2 separate regions of the Homo sapiens genome follow, and region 2 is linked to region 1. A link means that fine-mapping ties the variant in region 1 to the plasma level of a protein whose gene starts in the linked region. Region 1 holds a variant in brackets. A gene starts in the other region. All regions are shown on their reverse strands.

Region 1 (10,253 bases):
TTGGGGTGGAGGTGGGTGGGAGGAGGAGGTGGGGGTTGGGGAGGGAACCTTCTGACCCTGGCTGGGTCACACCTCTGAGATGCTACAAGAACGAAGAATGGTAGGGGCCAGGTGTAGATGGGAGAAGGCAGCTGGTAGACAGCCTCGGCTTTCTGAGGTATCTGAGGTCTCTGATGGCCTCAAGGCAAACACTGCCTCCTGTCAGGCTCAGAACAGTAAAGACTCTCCAGCCAGCCTTCCTGAATGCCAACAGCCACAGGACTGTGCAGGTCTAATTTCCAATCAGATATGAAGGGAAGGAGAATGATCTCTGCTGATAAACCGAGTCTGGAAACCTTGTTATAGAATGCAGTAGAAAAAAAGACAGGAGAGAGGGAAAAACATATGAAGCGGTTCTTAGGTAATTTCTAAGAAGGAAGCTGCAGCAGGAACTCTGGCTACATACCAGAGATCGCCCTCTTATTTCTTTCACTTAATAACATTAAACAGGAAAAGAAGGAATGGAAATTCAGGAACTTCAAGGTCCCACTAGGGCACTGAGGACCAGTGTAGAGGAGGACTCATCCTGCACCAGACCTATAGGCATGGATTATACCATGCCCATGGTGCCAATTAAGCTTTAAGAATCACACTTGCTAGCATTGGAGAGGTTAGGGGGTCGGGGAGAGGTGGTACCTAAAGAAGGAAAAAGACGACTATCTGTGTTAGGCCATTCTTGCATTGCTATAAAGAAATACCTGAGACTGGGTGATTTATTTAAAAAAAAAAAAAAAAAGAGGTTTAATTGGCTCACGATTCTGCAGGCTTTACAGGAAGCATGGTGCTGGCCTCTGCTCAGCTTCTAAGAGGTTTCAGGCAACTTACAATCATGATGGATGGTGAAGGGGGACCAGGCACATCATGTGGCAAAAGCAAGAGCAAGAGAGAGAGAGGGTGCGGGGAGGGGAAGTACCACATATTTCTAAACAATCAGATCTCGTGAGAACTCACTCACTATGGTAAAGATAGCACCATGCCATGAAGGATCCACCCCCATGACCCAAACACCCCCCGCCAGGCCCCACCTCCAGCACTGGGGATACAATTCAACATGAGATTTTGGCAGGGACAAGCATGCAAACTATATCACCATCTGGTAACATCCTATGGCTATGGAAGGGAAGGGAATAGGCAAAATTGGTGGTTGAATTTGGTTGACAACCAAAACTCAGTGGACAACCCCTTTTTGGTATCCCAGTGGTAGAAGCCACTTGGAGAAGGTTGGGAAGCTGAATCAGCCCAGGATCTGTGTGGTCTTCAGCCTTCCAGGAAGTAGATCATGCTGGACAAAAACTTCAGACCTCAACCCACAGGATCTAGAAAGGCCAGGATGGAAGAAGCCACAAGGAAAGGAGATACTTAGAGCTCAGTGGTGCTGGTTAGGGAGTCTTTAAGGACACTTGAGAGCCAGCACCTGTGCCCTCATCCTGGCTTCAGATTCTGTGGCCTAAGTGCTAAAGCCTCCCGCCCACTCCTACAGATGTGAATGAGAGTCAGGGAAAAACTGGGGGTGGGTATGGGAGTCCGATGAGAGAAGAGCACATCAAACCCAGGGTATCTGTGAGAGGGAGCTGGATCCATAGGGCCTGCTCTGCATCTGCAAGTCCAGATGTAATGGCAACACACTTGGGCAGTTACCATCGCTACCTATGTGCAGAAGGCTACACAAACAGGAAGAGGAAATATTCAAGCACTGGCTCGTTCATTTTAACTCGAGAGTGTCTAAAACAGATCCCCAACAGCACGGAAAGTTTCAGTTTTGTAGTCAAGCAGATAAAGATGTGGCTAAGGAGAGTATTCTAAGGCAGATGCCAAGTGTATGCCCTCTGTGAGTGCAATGTGCATTGCCCATGGGCCTAGAGCATTCTAGAATAGATATGCAAAATACATGACCACTTAGGGAAAGTTGAGATGAGTCACTCTTTCTAAGAGTAACCGTTTAAAACATCACACTTAGTATCTCTGAGCCCCACAGCACATGCACTGTGAAGAATAAAAATTCAGATAACATTTAGACTTGCATGAACAATTGTTTTTTTTAAATAGACACCAAAGGAAACTCGAACCCAAATTCTAGATTCAGAATGCCCAACACTGCTTACCAGAGACAATGGATTTTGGTTTAGGTTTTAAAGAGTGATAAGTATCAGATTCAGATGCTAAGAGGTAAAAGGAGAAGACAGTTTTGCTGCTCACTCAGTGGGTTTTCTCAGTTTTAGACAAAGGTCACAAGGGATCTTGGGGGCTCCAGACACTATCGAGTAATTGGTAAAAAGGATGATCATGATATCAAATACCTGGAGTGCTAATTTCTTTAGAAACCAAATTATATAAGACCTTTGAGGCATGTGAACGTTCATCCCCAGTTCAGAACTGCCTGGAAGAAGCAGAGTTGACATTGTTCATTTTTAAATACTGTGCAAGTTCTGCTAGATGGCTAGCATCATAATGGGGTAAGAGCAGATCCTGAGTAGATCTTCCCTAGCACTCCTTAGCTGTTTCCCATGAACCTTAGAGAATCAAAGACCTATAGGCTTAGTGGATACTAAGAGAGATTTGAAGATAAACATGCCATTAAGGCAAAGCCCTTCTCTGACCTGACCCAAGCATGTCAGGCCAGAGACAGTAAGAAAAGGCACCAGAAAAGGCATTCCATGGATAAGAGAGAAGCCAGGGCCCTCCACCCTTTTGAACATTTTGAAAACTGAAAAGGGAAGGCCTGTAAGCAGATGCTCAGGGCCTTCATGATCTCTTTCAGCCAGGTTCTTGCACTAGTATCAGCTGATCAAGTCCTTTCCCTCAGTTTAAACCATGGACTACCGTACTGAGGGCTTAGGAGCTGTGCTTTCTGACATAGCAGGAAGATATCGGGAAGGTAGCTAAATTCTACTGGCAGAAGCTTAAACTATGTGAGATCTAATATCAATATCCTGTTTACAGATCAGAGCCATTGGCACATAATTAGGCAGTGAGACACCAATTCTAGGAGGTGTGTATACAAGGTGGAGGGGTGATCCACAGAAGCCTCCCCTCTGTGCTCTCCAGAGCCAAGCAAGACATGACAGGGAAGTAGAGGGTGGTCGTTTCGGTTATACAGATGCTGCACCTCTTGAAGGAGTCAGAGGCATGTGAGATTCCCAGGGTCCTAAGGGATCTGAGTTCCTTTATGCCAGAAAGCTTGGGCTTTCCAAGGTAAGGCCAATGGTAGCTCTCACTTATGTGGCTCCGGTAAACCTAACTGCTCCAGCCAGGAGGGACAAGATGGAAGCTCAGCATAGGAGGTGGTCAAGGAAAGAAACCTAGGACCTCTGAGGTTGAACTAGACTAGTGGTTTTTGTTTTTGTTTTTTTCAAGTAAATTTGAATTTGGCATTGAGATGGGCACAAATTAGAACAGCTTAAGGATGTATTATTAAAATGAGTGCTGAAATATTCTCTATGAAGACACTTTCCCCCAAGAATACTGTGGTATGGTTTTGAAGACCTCATAAGGCTTGGGATGGAACATAGTATGTGAATGTTGCAATGCTTTCCACCTTCTGGAAATCTGTAACTGGAGGGCAGAATTCTGGTGGAGGGTTCCACTTGTAAGTCTCACCCTAATAGTGTTGGTGGTACTTTAAATAATAAATTGAAAAAAATTATATTAATTTCTCTAAACTGAAATTATGAAACATATGTCACCATCCATACCTGTGAGCATTATCCCTGTGCCTTTTCCTTGTCTCTCCTGGGGATCTCAGAGAGGCCTCCCTTGTTTTTCAAATGAATCATATAGCAGTTTATTCCTTGATCTCTAGTTCCACAGTTCCTCTCCCCACTTCCCTCAGTATCTTTATTTCCCTTCAAATTTCACTTTACAGGTCTCTTCATCTGATCAGTGAGTTTCTTGCCAAACATATTTCAAGACCTTCTGGAAGTACCTTGCCAATAACCCATTGCCACATCATTATTGCTAACTCTTCATTATTCTCCATATTCTCTTTTCAATTTCAAGGATAACAATATCAATCAGTGTGGACCTAACCTGTGCTTCTTAAAGCCTCTCTGGACTGGGGTTTTAAAAGGATCACACTAAACCCTTAATTACTCCTCTTTTCTTGTACTCCCTTCTCTGCTCTTGTCCTGGAAGAGAGATCATGACAAGGGATGATAGCTCATAGTGAAGGAGCCACTCCTTGGCTGGCAAGAGGCTCTCCTAAACCACTACAAACAATTAGTCTTAATCCTGGCTTTCAAATAGAAGCACCTGGGGAGCTTTTAAAAAAATATGGATGCCTGGGTCCTATCCCACACCAATTAAATCAGGAACTCTTGGGATGAAGCCCTAGGGTTGGTATTTTTTAAAACTGCAGTGTGATTCTAATGTGCACTCAGTTTCAAAGCACTGTTAGGAGCTGTGGTTAGCCATGATCCTTTGTTGAGCATCTATTTGCAGCCAGATGTCAGCCCACACAATCAGGGCATAGAGGAGTAGCACAAGGATTCTCCAATCAAGTTATTCAATTCTCCCACTCACTGCTTCTTGCCTGCTTTGCCTCCCCCACTCTGAGCCAGGGCTCCTTTTATTAAAGCAACTCCTAAGAACACAGGGACGCTCTCTACCCCTTGCATGAACTCCTCTGCAAATCTCTTAGGAGTTAGCACTTCAATCACTATCATTCATTCAGAAAATGTAAGTCACCTTTTTTGCTTTGAGTTAATCATTTCCCATTTTCCCAGGTGATTCAGAAAGCCAGTGCTCACTGACAATGAGTGGGTAGACGCGTGGGCCTGCAGACCTGCCTCGCTGTTCCATTAACAGCAGAACACACTTCGAGAGGCAACTGACAATGGAGGCAACAACAACAACAACAAAAGCAGTATTTTTCCAATCATAAAAAAA[G/T]AAGTCTGTTTCTGAAAACACAGTTTGATTTGTTTATATTTCATGCAGTGTTAAAATGCTCAGTCGGTTCTAACCTTGTTTGCATTAATCCTCTTTTCGGAATTTGCACATTTGTTTTCAAAGCATTGGGTTGGAGCAGTTTGCTGCTACATGGAAATCATATCAGCAATCGTACTCAGAACATGAAATGAACCTGCACATAGAACCCACACAATTTTAATGTCTGCTAACCAACTGATAAGCACATAGGAAGGGCATACAAGAATTAGAATAGAGAGCCATTGAGCCAACAAAGGTTCACTTTCTAAGAATCACCACCTTCTGAGGTTACTGGTTAGTACTCTCAACAGCCATTGCAGCAGAGGCTAATTCATTCATTCACACATTCAAGAAATTTTTCCTTGGACATCTACTGTATGCCAGGTACGATGCTATGAGTTAGGACTAGACTAAGGAATAAAACACAGTCTCAGCCCCCAGAGTCTACAGTCTTCAGCTAATCATATAAACAAATAATGAGCTTTGCAAAAGCTTCTCCTCTCATTGGTATGCTCTTCTCCCATCTCTTTGTCTGGCTAAATTCTATTCAACCTGCTAGATCTTGAGTAAGATGTTTCTTTATCTAAAATAAGCGTCCCCAACCCCCAGGCCATGGACCAGCACCAGTCTGTGTCCTATTAGAAACCAGGCTGCATGGCTGGGTGCAGTGGCTCACGCCTATAATCCCAGCACTTTGGGAGGCTGAGATGGGTGGATCACCTGAGGTCAGGAGTTTGAGACCAGCCTGGCAAACATGGTGAAACCCCATCTCTACTAAAAATACAAAAATTAGCTGAGCGTGATGGCAGGCACCTGTAATCCTAGCTACCTGGGAGGCTGAGGCAGGAGAATCACTTGAACCCAGGAGGCAGCAGTTGCAGAGATTGTGCCACTGCACTCCAGCCTGGGTGACAACAGCAAAACTCCATCTCAAAAAAAAAAAAAAAAAAAAAAACAAGAGAAGAAAAAAAACCAGGCTGCACAGCAGGTGAGCAGCAGGCCAGTGAGCATTACCACCTGAGCTCTGCCTCCTGTCAGATTAGCAGTGGCATTAGATTCTCACAAGAATGTGAACCCTATTGTGAACTGTGCATGCGAGGGGTCTAGGTTGCACGTTCCTTATGAGAATCTAATGCCTGATGATCTGAGGTGAAACAGTTTCATCCTGAAACCATCCCTCCCCTTGCCCATCAGTGGAAAAATTGTCTTCCACAAAACTGGCCCCTGGTGCCAAAAAAGTTGGGGATTGCTAATCTAGAAAATGCTCCTTGACACCTCAAGTTAGAGTTAGGCGTCCTTTCTAGGTATTTCCATAGCAACAGTGCTTACTCCTATCTGAGGACTTTGCACTTCGTATTGCAATTACTTGTTTAATTATTTATATCCTCTCACTAGGCAATGAGCTACTTAAGGACAAGAGCTATGTCATGTCCATCTTTATATCCCCAATGACTAGCACTATGCCTAGCACCTATTAGGAACTCAATAGATAATTGTTGAATGAATAAGTGAATGAGTGATTGAGGTATTCATAGGGTATTATAAGAACACAGAGAAGAGACACCTAAAGATACTTCCTGGGAGAGGTAGCTTCTAGGGGAAGTTATAAATGGTTAAGTCTGAATTATCCAGGATTAGGCTGGTTGGACAGTAGAGAGAGACATTCCAAGCAGAAGGATAGCATGAGAAAAAGAAAGCCACAAAAAACAAAAGAGGCATGCCAGAAAATGCCCAGCAACACGTGGAGAGGACACACGCTAAGGCAGCCGTAAGGTCATGAGGGATGGAAGGTTCCAACCAAACCAGACTCAAACTCCATTCTTCCCTTCGTTCCCATCCAAATAAAAGAATGAACACACAGATCAGAGGAGTCCTAGGAGCTGATCTCCAGGGTTTACATACTGGTTACCAACATATTACATAGTCCCTAAGTCACAAACCATGCCAAAAACTCTTCCTTGATACAAGAACTATGTCTTACCCTGCCCTGTGAGGTTCAGTGAATGGGACCTTCCAGGGAAAAGGTGCCAGGTCATCTTCTTAATACACTCCTTGCAGAAGGTTTCTGTCTCTCATTACAAATGGTGGTAAAACACCTTGTTCGCTTTGGTAGGCCCACCTTTCCTCTGCCCAGCTTCTTCCTAAAACCTAGCTCCTTTTGTTCAACCTGAGCAACCCTTAGGAGAGCATGTTGCCTTATTTCTCCTTACTCCATTGTTTTTTGTCTTGTTTTTTGAGATGGAGTCTCGCTCTGTCACCCAGGCTGGAGTTTAGTGGCACAATCTCAGCTCACTGCAACCTCTGCCTCCCGGGTTCAAGTGATCCTCCTGCCTCAGCCTCCTGAGTAGCTGGGACTATAGGCATGCGCCACCATGCCTGGCTAATTTTTGTATTTTTTAGTAGAGATGGGGTTTTACCATATTGGTTGGCCTCGAACTCCTGACCTCGTGATCCACCCCCACCCCACCCCACCTCCCAAAGTGCTGGGATCACAGGTGTGAGCCACCGCACCCAGCCCATTGTCTTTTAAAATATTAATTTCAGTGATTTCGTCATTTACATTCAATGCAACCAATATCCTATTTAAGGTAATTCCAGAGTTTCAGTAAAACATCTCTGATTACCCACTTCAAGTAAGAAATTCTAAGAAGATCAGCTGATAGAGTTCAGTCATTAATTCATTCAACAACTATTTAACACATCTGTGTCAAGCACTGTGCTGGAGTCTGGAAATTCAAAGATGAATGAGAAATGGTCTCTACTCTTAAACTGTCTGCAGTGTGGAGGAAGTTCTAGGATGGGGAAATTGCTTATGTGGGGCAGTGCTGAGGCTACTGCTGACCTACCTAAGCCAGCACTTCAGGTTTATGCAGGTCCCTGAATCAGCAATACAAGCATCACCTGGAAACTTGTTAGAAATGCACATTCTTGGGCTCTTCGTACAAACCTACTGAATCAGAATAAGAGAGTGAGGCCCAGCCACCTAGGTTTTAACAGGACCTCCCAGGAATGCTGAGGCTCACTTTGGTTTGGGAATCTCTGGTCTAAGCTCTGTTCTGAATCACACCAGGCCTATATGGAAGGTGATTAGCCATTCCCAGCCTTCTTCTCTACAATCCCCCCTTCTTCTTTTAGGAGATTAACATGAAACATCAATCCAGAGTGACTACCCAAAATGAAGTAAAAATACTATTTTCTCACATAATAGCAACACATGACACTGCTCCCAAATCACAGAGACGGTTTTATGAAGATCAGTATGGTATGGACTAAACCGACTAGAGCCACATCAGCATCAACACAGAGGGATTCAGAAAGGATAATATCATCATTGTCTCCTGTATTAGTCTGTTCTCACATTGCTATGAAGACACACCCGGGACTGAGTAACTTATGAAGAAAAAAGGTTTAATTGACCCACAGTTCCACATGGCTGGGAGGCCTCTGGAAACTTACAATTGTGGCAGAATGCAAAGGAGAAGCAAGGTACCTCTTGCATGGCAGCAGGAAAAAGAGCCGCAGGGGAAACTGCCGCTTGTAAACCATCAGATCTCGCGAGCCCTCCCTCACTATCACGAGAACAGCATGGGGGAAACCGTCCTCATGATCCTCCCAATAGCCCCCAATCACCTCCCATCAGGACCCTCCCTCCACACGTGGGGATTACAATTCAAGATGAGATTCAGGTGGGGACACAAAGCCAAACCATATCATCTTCATTCTCCCCCCTGGCACTTGAGGGGAAAAAAGAATCATATCAGCTTGACTATTCAAAAAAGAAGCAAGAGCGCCACAGTTATTTCAGTGCATGGGAAAAGGGATAAACTGAAACAATAAACTTGAACGTTTAGGAATATAAAGGTAAGGGGGAGAGAGATAACAATCTTGGCCTCTGAGTTCTGCAACCCTATGGTTGTTTTAAACAAATGAAAGCAGATTGCTTTCTTCCTGGAGTTCTAGTGAAATGTATCTTGCCACCAGCAGACCGTTCGGAGCTCCTGGCCACAGTTTATTGGCTCATTGCCACGTGTCATTAGTGACCTATTTTCGCTGCTGTGAAATCGGCCATGTCTGAAGGCCCCCGAATCAGCAGTTTCTCCCTCCACTCACCGGCTCCAGGCTGGCAAAGCTGACACCAGTGCCACAGAAAATGCAACCCGCTGCCCTCTCCCCAAAATGTGGGGAGAGCACGGTTTTGCTATGAAGATGTCGGCTTTGACCTGAGGCTGACTTGAGAGCCCAGCTGTCATGTCTCTTCCAAATAAGCTGCTGAACTTGGAATTATCTTGGCTGAATAATTAATCAGGACTAAAAATAACCTCAAACTGCCTGGGCTTTGCTTAAATCCTACACAGGTGAGAGAAGTAGGTTTTTTTTTTAACGTAATTGCAAAACCCATATTTTGAAAGGCTCTGCACCAAAATATGAAAATAATTACCCAACATGCCAATTTGGGAGATAATTCACAGTTAATCTGGCTCTCTTAAAAAAATGCCACCTTTTGAATTTCACATTGACTTCAGATTGTCAGTTCTTGGTGGATATGAAAAGCAGCCGAGAGTTGTACTCAAAATTTTCTAAGAATACCTTCAAACACAAATCCATGGGGAAAAATATATCCGTTGGTATAAAGAGCGCCTGTTACCAGGCAGATTAGACAGTGAGCCGAGTTCCACAAGAGGGCGCCTTCCCCATGCTTCCTTCTCGAAGGTGAGGGCGCTGCGTTTCCGCCCCAGCCTTGGCTGCCCTTTCTTTTCCTTTGCCCTTATACAAACGATGTGCTCCCAAGAGCGAATGCTCAGTGTCCTGTGGAATGCTACTCCTGTGACCACTTTCTAGCTGAGATCATCAGGCAAATGTTATCTCTGTAACATCAGAGGAGCAACTTCAAATGATGAGAAATCAAGCAAAACATTAAAAATACAGGGGGAAAAAACAAATACATCTAAACTGCCTTCTCTCCATGGTGATCTAGCTTTGTGTGTTCATTTTCTTGATATTGCTGTGATACAAATAGGATGTGATGAAATGAAAGTACATCCATCACAGCAATCTTGTGTCCAGCCTGAATCTCAGACCCAGATGTGGCTCCAACCAACAAGTGACCATGAGCACGGGGCCCAGGTGTATTCTGGGAAGCTGCTCACCCTCACTGCCATTTCTTTCATCCCCGTAGGCACAGCATCACCTTACATCGAAGACAGATTCAACGAATCTGCCTCTCATCCTAGGTGGCCACTAGGCAACTCCTCTGGGACCATTTCTTCCTGCTCTATGCTCCCATGACCTTC
Region 2 (10,253 bases), not on the chromosome of region 1:
ACGGAGACTCTGTCTCAAAAAAAAAAAAAAAAAAAATTAGCCAGGAGTAGTGGCAGGCACCTGTAATTCCAGCTACCAGGAGGCTGAGGCAGGAGAATCACTTGAACCTGGGAGGTGGAGGTTGCAGTGAGCTAAGATCACACCATTGCACTCCAGCCTGGGTGACAACAGCAAGACTCTGTATCAAAAACAAACAAAAACCTGCTTCTTGGGCTAGGTGCGGTGGCTTAAGCCTATAATCCCAGTACTTTGGGAGGCTGAGGTGGGAGGATTGCTTGAATCCAGGAGTTTGAGACCAGCCTGGGCAATATAGTCAGACCTCTGTCTCTACAGAAAATTTAAGAATTAGCCAGGTGCAGTGGTGCATGTCTGTAGTCCCAGCTACTCAGGAGGCTGAGGTGGGAGGATTGCTTGAACCCGGGAGGTGGAGGTTGCAGTGAGCTGAGATTGCACCACTGCACTCCAACCTAAGTGACAGAGGGAGACTCTGTCTCAAAAAATATACATAAATTTTTTTTTTGCAATTGCTTCTTGTCAATCTCAGCCCAGGACCTGGGTGACCTCTGCCATAGAGAAGGGAATGTATTAAGCCATTCTTCCTTTGCTATAAAGAAATACCCTGTAATCCTAACACTGGGAAACTGAGGCTGGAGGATCACTTGAGCCTAGGAGTTTGAGACCATCTGGGCAACATGGTGAAACCCTGTCTTTACGAAGAATTTTTTTTTTTTAAGATGGAGTTTCGCTGGGTGCGGTGGCTCACGCCTGTAATCCCAGCACTTTGGGAGGCCAAGGCGGGCGGCTCACCTGAGGTCAGGAGTTCGAGACCAGCCTGACCAATATGATGAAACCCCATCTCTACTAAAAATACAAAAATTAGCCGGGCATGGTGGCATGTGCCTGTAATCCCAGCTACCTGGGAGGCTGAGACAGGAGAATCACTTGAACCTGAGAGCTGGGAGGCGGAGGTTGCAGTGAGCCGAGATCGCGCCGTTGCACTCCAGCCTGGGCAACAAGAGCGAAACTCCGTCTCAAAAAAAAAAAATGGAGTTTTGCTCTTGTTGCCCAGGCTGGAGTGCAATGGCACAATCTTGGCTTACTGCAACCTCCGCCTCCCGGGTTCAAGTGATTCTCCTGTCTCAGCCTCCCAAGTAGCTGGGATTACAGGCGCCTGCCACCATGCCTGGCTAATTTTTTTGTATTTTTAATAGAGACAGGGTTTCACCATGTTGGTCAAGCTAGTCCCAAACTCCTGACCTCAGGTGATCCACCTGCCTTGGCTTCTCAAAGTGCTGGGATTACAGGCATGAGCCACTGCGTCTGGCCTTCTACGAATAATTTTTAAAAATTAGCCAGGTGTGGTGGTGTGCACCTGTAGTCCCACCTACTTGAGAGGCTGAAGTGGGAGGATCACTAGAGCATGTGAAGTTGAGGCTGTGGTGAGCCATGATTGCACCACTGTGCTCCAGCCTGGGCAGTAGAGTGAGACCCTGTCTCAAAAAAAAAAAAAAAAAAAGGAAGAAAGAAAAAGAAAAAAAATACCTGAGACTGGGTAATTTTTTTTTTTTTTGAGACAGAGTCTTGCTCTGTCACCCCTGCTGGAGTGCAGTGGCATGATCTCAGCTCACTGCAAGCTCTGCCTCCTGGGTTCATGCCATTCTCCTGCCTCAGCCTCCCGAGTAGCTGGGACTACAGGTGCCCGCCACCACGTCAGGCTAATTTTTTTTTTTCATTTTTAGTAGAGATGGGGTTTCACCGTGTTAGCCAGGATGGTCTCAATCTCCTGACCTCATGATCCGCCCATCTCGGCCTCCCAAAGTGCTGGGATTACAGGCGTGAGCCACCGCGCCCGGCTTTTTTTTTTTTTTGGAGACAGGGTCTCACTGTGTCACCCAGGCTATAGTGTGGTGGCATGATCTTGGCTCACTGCAACCTCTGCCTTAGCCTCCCAAGTAGCTGGGACTACAGGCCGACACCACCATGCCTGGCTGACCACCATGCTTGCCTGGGAGACTGAACAATTTATAAGGAAAAGAAGCTTAATTAGCTCATGGTTCTGCAGGCTTTATGGGAAGCATGGTGTTGGCATCTGCTCAGCTCCTGGGTAGGCCTCTGGAAGCTTACAATCATGTCAGAAGGTGAAGGAGAAGCAGACATGTCACATATCCAGAGCAGGAGCAAGAGAGGGAGGGAGTTATGGGAGGAGGTGCCACACACTTTTAAATGACTGGATCTCTTGTGAACTCAGTGACAGCTCACTTATCCCCAAGAGAATGGCCCAAGCCATTCATGAAGGATCCACCCCCATGATCCAGACACCTCCACCAGGCCCCACCTCCAACATTAGGGATTACATTTCATCATGAGATTTGGGTGGGGACAAATATCCAAACTATATTAAGGAGGAATATTTCCCTTTCTTTATCAGGAGTATAAAGTAGGAGGCATGGGGGATTCTCTCCCTGTTCTGTTCAGGCATAGGTTAAGGAAACACCAATTCCTTTAAACATATGCATCTGGAGTTGCCAATTCTGAGTATCACAGTTGTTAAAATATGACACAGTCCCTGCCCTCAAGAAATTGACAAGGTAGAAAAATAAAAAATGGCTCTTTTTGTTTCCATCCCTACAAGCACTCTGGTCTAGTAGTATATTCAGCAAAAGGAGCAAAAAGTGCCACTTCCAGCTCCAAATCAGCAGGTCGGGTGGTGGGGTCTGGCCAAGTTCACACACAGAATAATTAACTCCTGCATGCTACCTGGGATGATATTTATTCGATGCTTGCTATATGCCAGGTATAATGCTACACCTTTTTTTTTCTTTTCTTTTTTTTTTTTTGAGTCGGAGTCTCGCTCTACTGCCCAGGCTGGAGTGCAATAGCATGATCTTGGCTCACTGCAACCTCCGCCTCCTGGGTTCAAGCAATTCTTCTGCCCCACTGAGCCTCCCGAGTAGCTGGGAATACAGGCATGTGCCACCATGCCCGGCTAATCTTTGTAATTTTAGTAGAGATGGGGTTTCATCATATTGGCCAGGCTGGTCTTGAACTCCTGACCTCGTGATCCGCCCACCTTGGCCTCCCAAAGTGCTGGGATTACAGGCGTGAGCCACCGCGCCCAGCCTACACCTTCATTTAAATACTATACTCATTTAATCCTCACAATGTGAAATAGATACTATTATCCTTAATTTTACAGGTGAAGAAATGGAAGCACAGAAAAATTAAGTGACTTGCCCAAGGTCATCCAGCTAGTGTCGGCATTTGAATCTAGGCAGTCTGTAAAGCTTGTGGTCTTAACTATTTATTATACTGCTAACATCCTGGATTAGGATAGCAGCAGGAATTAAAGCTCAATGGAGAGAGAGAGGACTTGAGAGAAGGTAGAATCCATGTAATCTGACCATAAGAGGAGAAAATTGAGATTACAAGTGAAAGTGGAATAAGATACAGGGTCTTTGGGCATTTGAGTTGCAATCAGTGGATTGTAACACCCTCCCCGAGCAGGATTTGTGTCTTAATCATTTTGCACCTAGCATAAAGCTGGGCTCATAATCATTCTCAAAACACATTATTGAATTGAATGATGGATGAGTAACATCATCTCTGTAGAAAGGACTGGCTCATTTGTCATTGTCCACAAGGGGCAATGCTGCTTATCTAGCAGGTGTTGGCAGTCACAGAGGACATGGTTGGTGGAGAGGGTGTGCTGGAGGGCTGTCAATATTAGTCTTGGAGTCATATTTATTTGCAGAGCTTCTCCAATCCTCATTAAAGGCCCAATGATATGAGGCTCTCCACCCCTGTACCCAGACAGAAATATGCACCAGACACTTTATTTTCTCTCATGAAAAGGCTGGCCTGTTACAGGTGGGATTGGTCATTGCTCCCAGCCCGTCAGCTTGATACTGCATTCTTGGTCTATTCTGTGGGGACAGCCCTGGAATAGACACTGAGTATCTATCAGAGTAGGCACCCTGAGCAAACTTCCTTTCCCAAACCCTCTTCCTGCCCATAACATGATTTGGCTTGGGCTGGAGGAGGGGGAGGGCAGAGGAGACACCCCTTGACCACCTCACATCTTTGTTGGTTCATGGGTCTCAGCCCTTTCCTATCATCCCAAAGAGCCTGAAATTGTTACATTTTGCTTTATAAATTCCTTTCTTAAGTATTGTCAGTTTCAAAAAAAAAAACCCAAAAAACGATTGTCTGCCTGTAATAGCAGGTGTGAGAGAAAATGAGGTGCCTGGAGCATATTTCTCTCTGGCAATGGGGTAGAGGGCCTGACATCATGGGGCCTTTAATGGTAGCCCCCCAGCTTCATGTTCCCTCACCTTTCTGGAGAGGAGGGCTTGGGAAAGGCACATGGAGATAGGGTGGAGCTGGGGGAAAACAGGCCTTGTACAAAAGCTGAGTAGCCAGATGTTCACTTTTACAGCTCTTCTGTAAAACTGGCAGGGCAGATATAGATTAAAACGAAGGACAAACTCCATTTAAAGTGCATTACAGCTCAGGAACCAGCACCCCCTGGGCAGGAGAAGGGAGGGAAGGGCACAGAGGCCACATCAGTCTCCTTCCTTATCTAGGGCCACATGTCTCTCTCCTAGCTTTGCCAAGGGTGATTTACACCCCCAGCTGGAATGACTCTCTTTCTGGGCTGATTACATCGGCAAATGCCCCCCAGAGGCCACAGCAGGATGGCCATATTCAGAAGCAGCAGCCAATAAATCTCAGAGGTTTATATTGCGATTCTCAGTACTCCCTGCTGGCCCTCTGCCAGGCTGGCTGTGGAAGTAAGGAGGGGGTCAAGTTAGAGGGTTAGGGGATGAAACCCTCCACTTCCTTTCATCACCCTCTTCTCCTTCTCTCTTTCTATGCGCTGCTTAGTTCTCATTCTTCCAAGCCATTCTGCTTCTGGCTTTATCCTGGGATCTTGTGGGAATCAGGCCCAGGCCCAATAAATACCCTTATCCTTATGGGTAGACGTCCTGTGTTCTGGGCACAGATGTGTTTCTACCTAGTTGTTTAATCCTGATAGAGTAGCTTGCTCTCCGAAAGTCTCATCATGTGAAAAGGATGGGCTCCTAAATGGTCTCTCCAGGCACCTTCCTCAGTGAGCTTTGGTCCAAGGAAATCTCTGCTATTTAGTGGAGAGTTTAATCTTCCATCTTCCCTCACGACACCATCGGGGCTGAATTTTGGAATCTAATGCCCCAGGTCTGCTCCCCCAGCAAAGCCATTCCACCTGTCTGCGACCCATCTTTGCAGCATCTTGAGCTTAATAACCACCCAATCTTACCCTAGAAGACACTTAGGAGAGGAAAAAACGAGATCATAGATGTGCAAATTCTAAGAAAAATACTAGAAATGCAAGTGCCCTTGTGTTGGCTTGTTCAAGTTTTGTTACAAAATCTCTTTTGTGGTGGTGTCTGTTCTTTGATGTGTGGGTGAGTGGGATCCAGAAAGTGAGAAAGGGTGCTTTTCTTGGAGAAATATTTGGTTCTCCTAGATGGCGAGTTTCCAGCGGCAGCTTCCACAATGTCTTGCTAGTCGAACTTGTCAGACAGCAGGTGGGCCGCCTCGGAAAGAGCAACCTCTTCCGCACCAAGCCCGGCGGCTCCCGGGGCGCCGGCCCTCCCCCGCCCCCACCCCCGCGGTCCCTCGGACCAGCGCTGGAGGCGCGTGGTGTGGACGCGCGCTTCGGAGTTGGAGGGCGGCGCCCAGGACCCTGGTGGGAGAGTGTGTGCGTCGCGCTGGAGGGCGGGAGGCGGGGGCGGGAGGTGCCGGTCGAGGGAGCCCCGCTCTCAGAGCTCCAGGGGAGGAGCGAGGGGAGCGCGGAGCCCGGCGCCTACAGCTCGCCATGGTGCGCCCCCTGAACCCGCGACCGCTGCCGCCCGTAGTCCTGATGTTGCTGCTGCTGCTGCCGCCGTCGCCGCTGCCTCTCGCAGCCGGTGAGTGTCAGAGCGCGCACCGGCCGGGGGTACAGTGGGAGGGGGAGGTGAGGTGTAGGCGAGGCCCGGGGCACCTGTCCGGAGAGGGCGCAGCAGCCTCCCGGTGCATCCGAGCCGAACAAGGGGAACTGGAGCAGGAAGCCCAGGGTGCCTGCAAGGGGCTGGGGTCACACCTAACACAGTGTACGAACTGAGATAGACTGAGTGCCAGCAATGGCCTGGCCACCCAAGCATCTCCTCCTCGCCCCTTTTTCCCCCCTCTTCCCTCTTTTGAGGTAGGTCTACACAGTCACAGAACAACCCACAGCCAGGTCACTACCAAGACAGCGTCTCTAAGAGGCGGGGAGAATCAGATCAGAAACAGAGTGTCATTTGCTCCACGTGGGCTTTAACTCTTCCATCTGCTTTAAGGACTGAGGAAGAAACTAGGTACAGGTGAAGAAAAAGAAGTTCGTTAAAACTGACTTGTTTCATAACCTTCTACAATAGCAGGCCTTGCAAGCCGTCTAGCACAGTGGCTTGCCCCTTGGATAATAAATAATCCACAATAGATGTTTTGTAGATGTAGTTCAAGGCCTGGTTTTAGAACCAGGCCACTCCCCCAAGGAAGAACAGCCTGGGATCCGAGATCCCTGGAAGGCCCATGGCCTTCGTGAGTGGTATGGGTGTGTGGAATCTTATTATGCGGCTCCTGCCCAGAGACTGAATGGAGGGACTCCTGAGACAGAGAGACCACCACACTGCCCTGAGACCTCAGTCCACAACGCAGTGCTGTAGAAATGCTGCCTTGAGACAGATATGGAAGGAAGGAGGAAAAACCCTGGTCTGTCCACCTGCCAACATCAGTAAGTCAGGGCAGCAAGACATCACCAGTCTGATTTGACTGCCCAGGAAATTTCACTAATCCTAAAGGTTATGGCTGCATGTCAGGATCAGGGGAAAACATTAAACACCTTTCTCATTAAATGGTTTAATGAAGCAGTGTTGGTGACAGATCTATTTTCCACAGTAATACTTGACAGCAATGACATCTGGTTAAGTAGCCTCATTGAAAATCCATAAAACAGTCATCTAGGAGGTACCATGTAGAGCCAAGTGCTCTTCAAGAGCACAGACCAACAGAGGGCTTTGGGGGTGGAAAATATCATTGCTCAGGGCCTGCTAAAGCCAAGCATATAGGAGACCTCCGATTCATGGGGAAGTGGTGTCATGTACTGAAAATCATTCTGAAGTGGATAGGAGGCTGGAGTCCTGGGTTCTAGCCTTGACTCGGTCTTGACTTGCTACATCCCCTGGTGCACATTACTTTTCTTTGTTCATCCAACTATAAAATGGATACCTGGGTTGTGGGCCTCACTGATGAGAAACAAATGAGGATCTTGTGCCCTGAGGCATAGCCTGATCTGACCCATTCTGTAGCTACTCATTCTCTGATGAGCCAAGAAGCAGAAAACAAAGTTACAAAACCAGGTTGCTAACAAATCAATATGAAATAGACGTGGCAGTGGCTGTATAAATGAGGAGGTGGGGCAAGTAATAGAAAGTGGTATGGACTATAACAAGCTGGAAAAGGCATGACTTGTCAAAAGGGGGCAGTCATTACTCCACCCGTTACATGTGGGCCCGAGTGTTTCCATTTTTCAAGACAAATTGGAAATTAATAGTTTTATTTGAAATCTGATTTTTTTTTTGAGACAGGGTATCAATCTGTCACCCAGGCTGGAGTTCAGTGGTGTGATTCCAGTTCACTGCAGCCTCAACCTCCCATACTCAAGTAATCCTTCTGCCTCAGCCTCCCCAGTAGCTGGGACTGTAGTAGTGTGCCACCACACCTGGTTAATTTTTGTATTTTTTGTAGAGACGGGTTTTTGCCATCTCGGATGCCCAGGCTGATCTTGAATCCTGGGCTCAAACAGTCTGCCCACCTTGGCCTCCCAAAGTGCTGCAATTAAAGGTGTGCGCCACCGCACCCGGCCTAAAATCTGATTTTTAAATGTTGGCCACTAATTACAACTTTAAGAAAATACTGGCTGGGTGCAGTGGCTCACACCTGTAATCCCAGCACTTTGGGAGGCTGAGACGGGTAGATCACGAGGTCAGGAGATTGAGACCATCCTGGCTAACACAGTGAATCCCCGTCGCTACTAAAAAATAGAAAAAATTAGCCAGGCATGCTGGTGGGCGCCTGTAGTCCCAACTACCCGGGAGGCTGAGGCAGGAGAATGGCGTGAACCTGGGAGGTGGAGCTTGCAGTGAGCTGAGATCGCGCCACTGCACTCCAGCCTGGGTGACAGAGCGAGACTCCGTCTCAAAAAAAAAAAAAAGAAAAAGAAAATACTGTGAACGTGCAAAAAAAACCAACCAAACAAACAAATAAAACAACCAAACCACACACACACACACACACACACACACACACAAAAAAAAAAAAAAAAAAAAAACAGAAAAGAAAATACTGCCGGGAATGGTGGCTCACGCCTATAATCCCAGCATTTTGGGAGGCCAAGGTGGGTGGATTGCTTGAGCTCAAGAGTTCGAGACCAGCCCGGGCAACATGGTGAAAACCCATCTCTACAAAAAATACAAAATTAGCTGGGCGTGGTAGTGCATGCATGCAGTCCCAGCTACTTGGGAGGCTGAGGTGGGAGAATTCACCTGAGCCTGGGAGGTCGAGACTGTAGGCTGCAGTGAGTGGCGATTGTACCACTGCACTCCAGTCTGGGTGACAGAGATTAAAAGAAAGAAAAGAAAAGGAGAAAGGAGAAAGAAAAAGAAAGGAACGGAACTATGCTGACTAAAAAAGACACATTTGCACACTGGATCAAATTATGACCTTTGCCCTGGATCAAGTCCTGTGTTTCACAATCCAGGAAACACAGGTTCCACCTTGTTGAGATGAAATTTAACGTGGCCCCCAAGTTCTTTGTTGAGATGAATGCCCCTAAATCCATCACTGCTCAAACTTGGTAAAGTGTCAACTAAGAAATTGTTTTCTTTTGAAAATGTTTACAACTCAATAGTTAGTACAGTTAAATATTTATGGCCGGGCACAGTGGCTCATGCCTGTAATCCCAGCACTTTGTTGAGGCCGAGGCGGGCAGATCACCTGAGGTCGGGAGTTCAAGATCAGCCTGACCAACATCGAGAAATCGCATCTCTACTAAAAATACAAAATTAGCCAGGCATGGTGGGGCATACCTGTAATCCCAGCTAGTTGGGAGGCTGAGGCAGGAGAATCGCTTGAACCCGGGAGGCAGAGGTTGCAGTGAGCCGAGATCGCGCCACTGCACTCCAGCCTGGGTAACAAGAGCAAAACTCCACCTCAAAAAAAAAAAATTATTTTTAGTCCAGTTACAACAATAGAACTTGAATCTGCCACTTTTCTTTGTGTACTTACCACTTATTCAGTACCTACCGGAAGTAACATCGTAAACTTGTAGAAATTCCTCAATCTTTTTAAATCCATGTTCCCCTTTTGGTAAATATATAAAATCTCATACCTTCCTTAAATACTTTTTGAAATCTCAAAAGCTTTTTTTTTCATCTTGTACATGTAAAATTATCAAATATGCTTTTTGGAAATACATATTTCCTAGAGAAATTCTGATATACTTTTTCTTTTCCATAGGTTATTGGGGTACATACAGGTGGTGTTTGGTTACATAAGTAAGTTCTTTAGTGCTGATTTATGAGATTTTGGTGTACCCATCACCCAAGAAGTATATACTGCACCCTATTTGTAGTCTTTTATCCCTTCCCCTCCCCCACGCTTCCCCCCAAGTCCCCAAGTCCATTGTATCATTCTTATGCCTTTGTATCCTCATAGCTTAGCTCCCACATATCAGTGAGAATATACGATGTTTGGTTTTCCATTCCTGAGTTACTTCACTTAGAATAATAGTCTCCAATCTCATCTAGGTTGCTGCAAATGCTGTTAATTCATTCCTTTTTTTTTTTTTTTTGAGACGGAGTCTGGCTCTGTCGCCCGGGCTGGAGTGCAGTGGCGTGATCTCGGCTCACTGCAAGCTCCGCCTCCCGGGTTCGCGCCATTCTCCTGCCTCAGCCTCCGAGTAGCTGTACAGGTGCCTGCCAGCACACCTGGCTAACTTTTTTTTTTTTTTTTTTTTTGTATTTTTAGTGGAGACGGGGTTTCACTGTTTTAGCCAGGATGGTCTTGATCTCCTGACCTTGTGATCCGACTGTCTCAGCCTCTCAAAGTGCTGGGATTACCGGCGTGAGCCACCATGCCTGGCCAATTCATTCCTTTTTATGGCTGAGTAGTATTCTATTCTATCACAATTTCTG

Which allele goes with the higher level. Positions count from the first base shown, and alleles are read on the strand shown. Strength reflects both the effect of a copy and how common the allele is.
With allele T in place of G in region 1, the plasma level of the protein whose gene starts at base 5,661 in region 2 is lower (weak association).

What was found. PIP is the chance, under the fine-mapping model, that this variant and not a neighbour inherited with it causes the effect. The UK Biobank Pharma Proteomics Project read protein levels with antibody pairs (Olink). The fine-mapping took linkage between variants from a reference panel, not from the people measured, so its PIPs are less certain.
Region 2: GFRA3 starts here. The variant in region 1 is fine-mapped to the plasma level of the GFRA3 protein (UK Biobank, PIP above 0.99).

Annotation. Positions count from the first base shown.
Region 1 is chr12:67,441,358-67,451,610 of GRCh38, reverse strand. It overlaps LINC02420 (long intergenic non-protein coding RNA 2420), which reads left to right and starts at 9,052. Exons shown (of 2, transcript NR_146500.1): 1 at 9,052-9,317; 2 at 10,139-10,253. All of the region lies in intron 3 of LOC105369812 (a long non-coding RNA gene), which reads right to left. RefSeq lists a silencer at 3,051-3,235. The variant G/T (reference allele first, on the strand shown) is at 4,924.
Region 2 is chr5:138,270,029-138,280,281 of GRCh38, reverse strand. GFRA3 (GDNF family receptor alpha 3) reads left to right here and starts at 5,661. Exons shown (of 8, transcript NM_001496.4): 1 at 5,661-5,948. The coding sequence starts at 5,858. RefSeq lists silencers at 5,569-5,658, 5,749-5,938.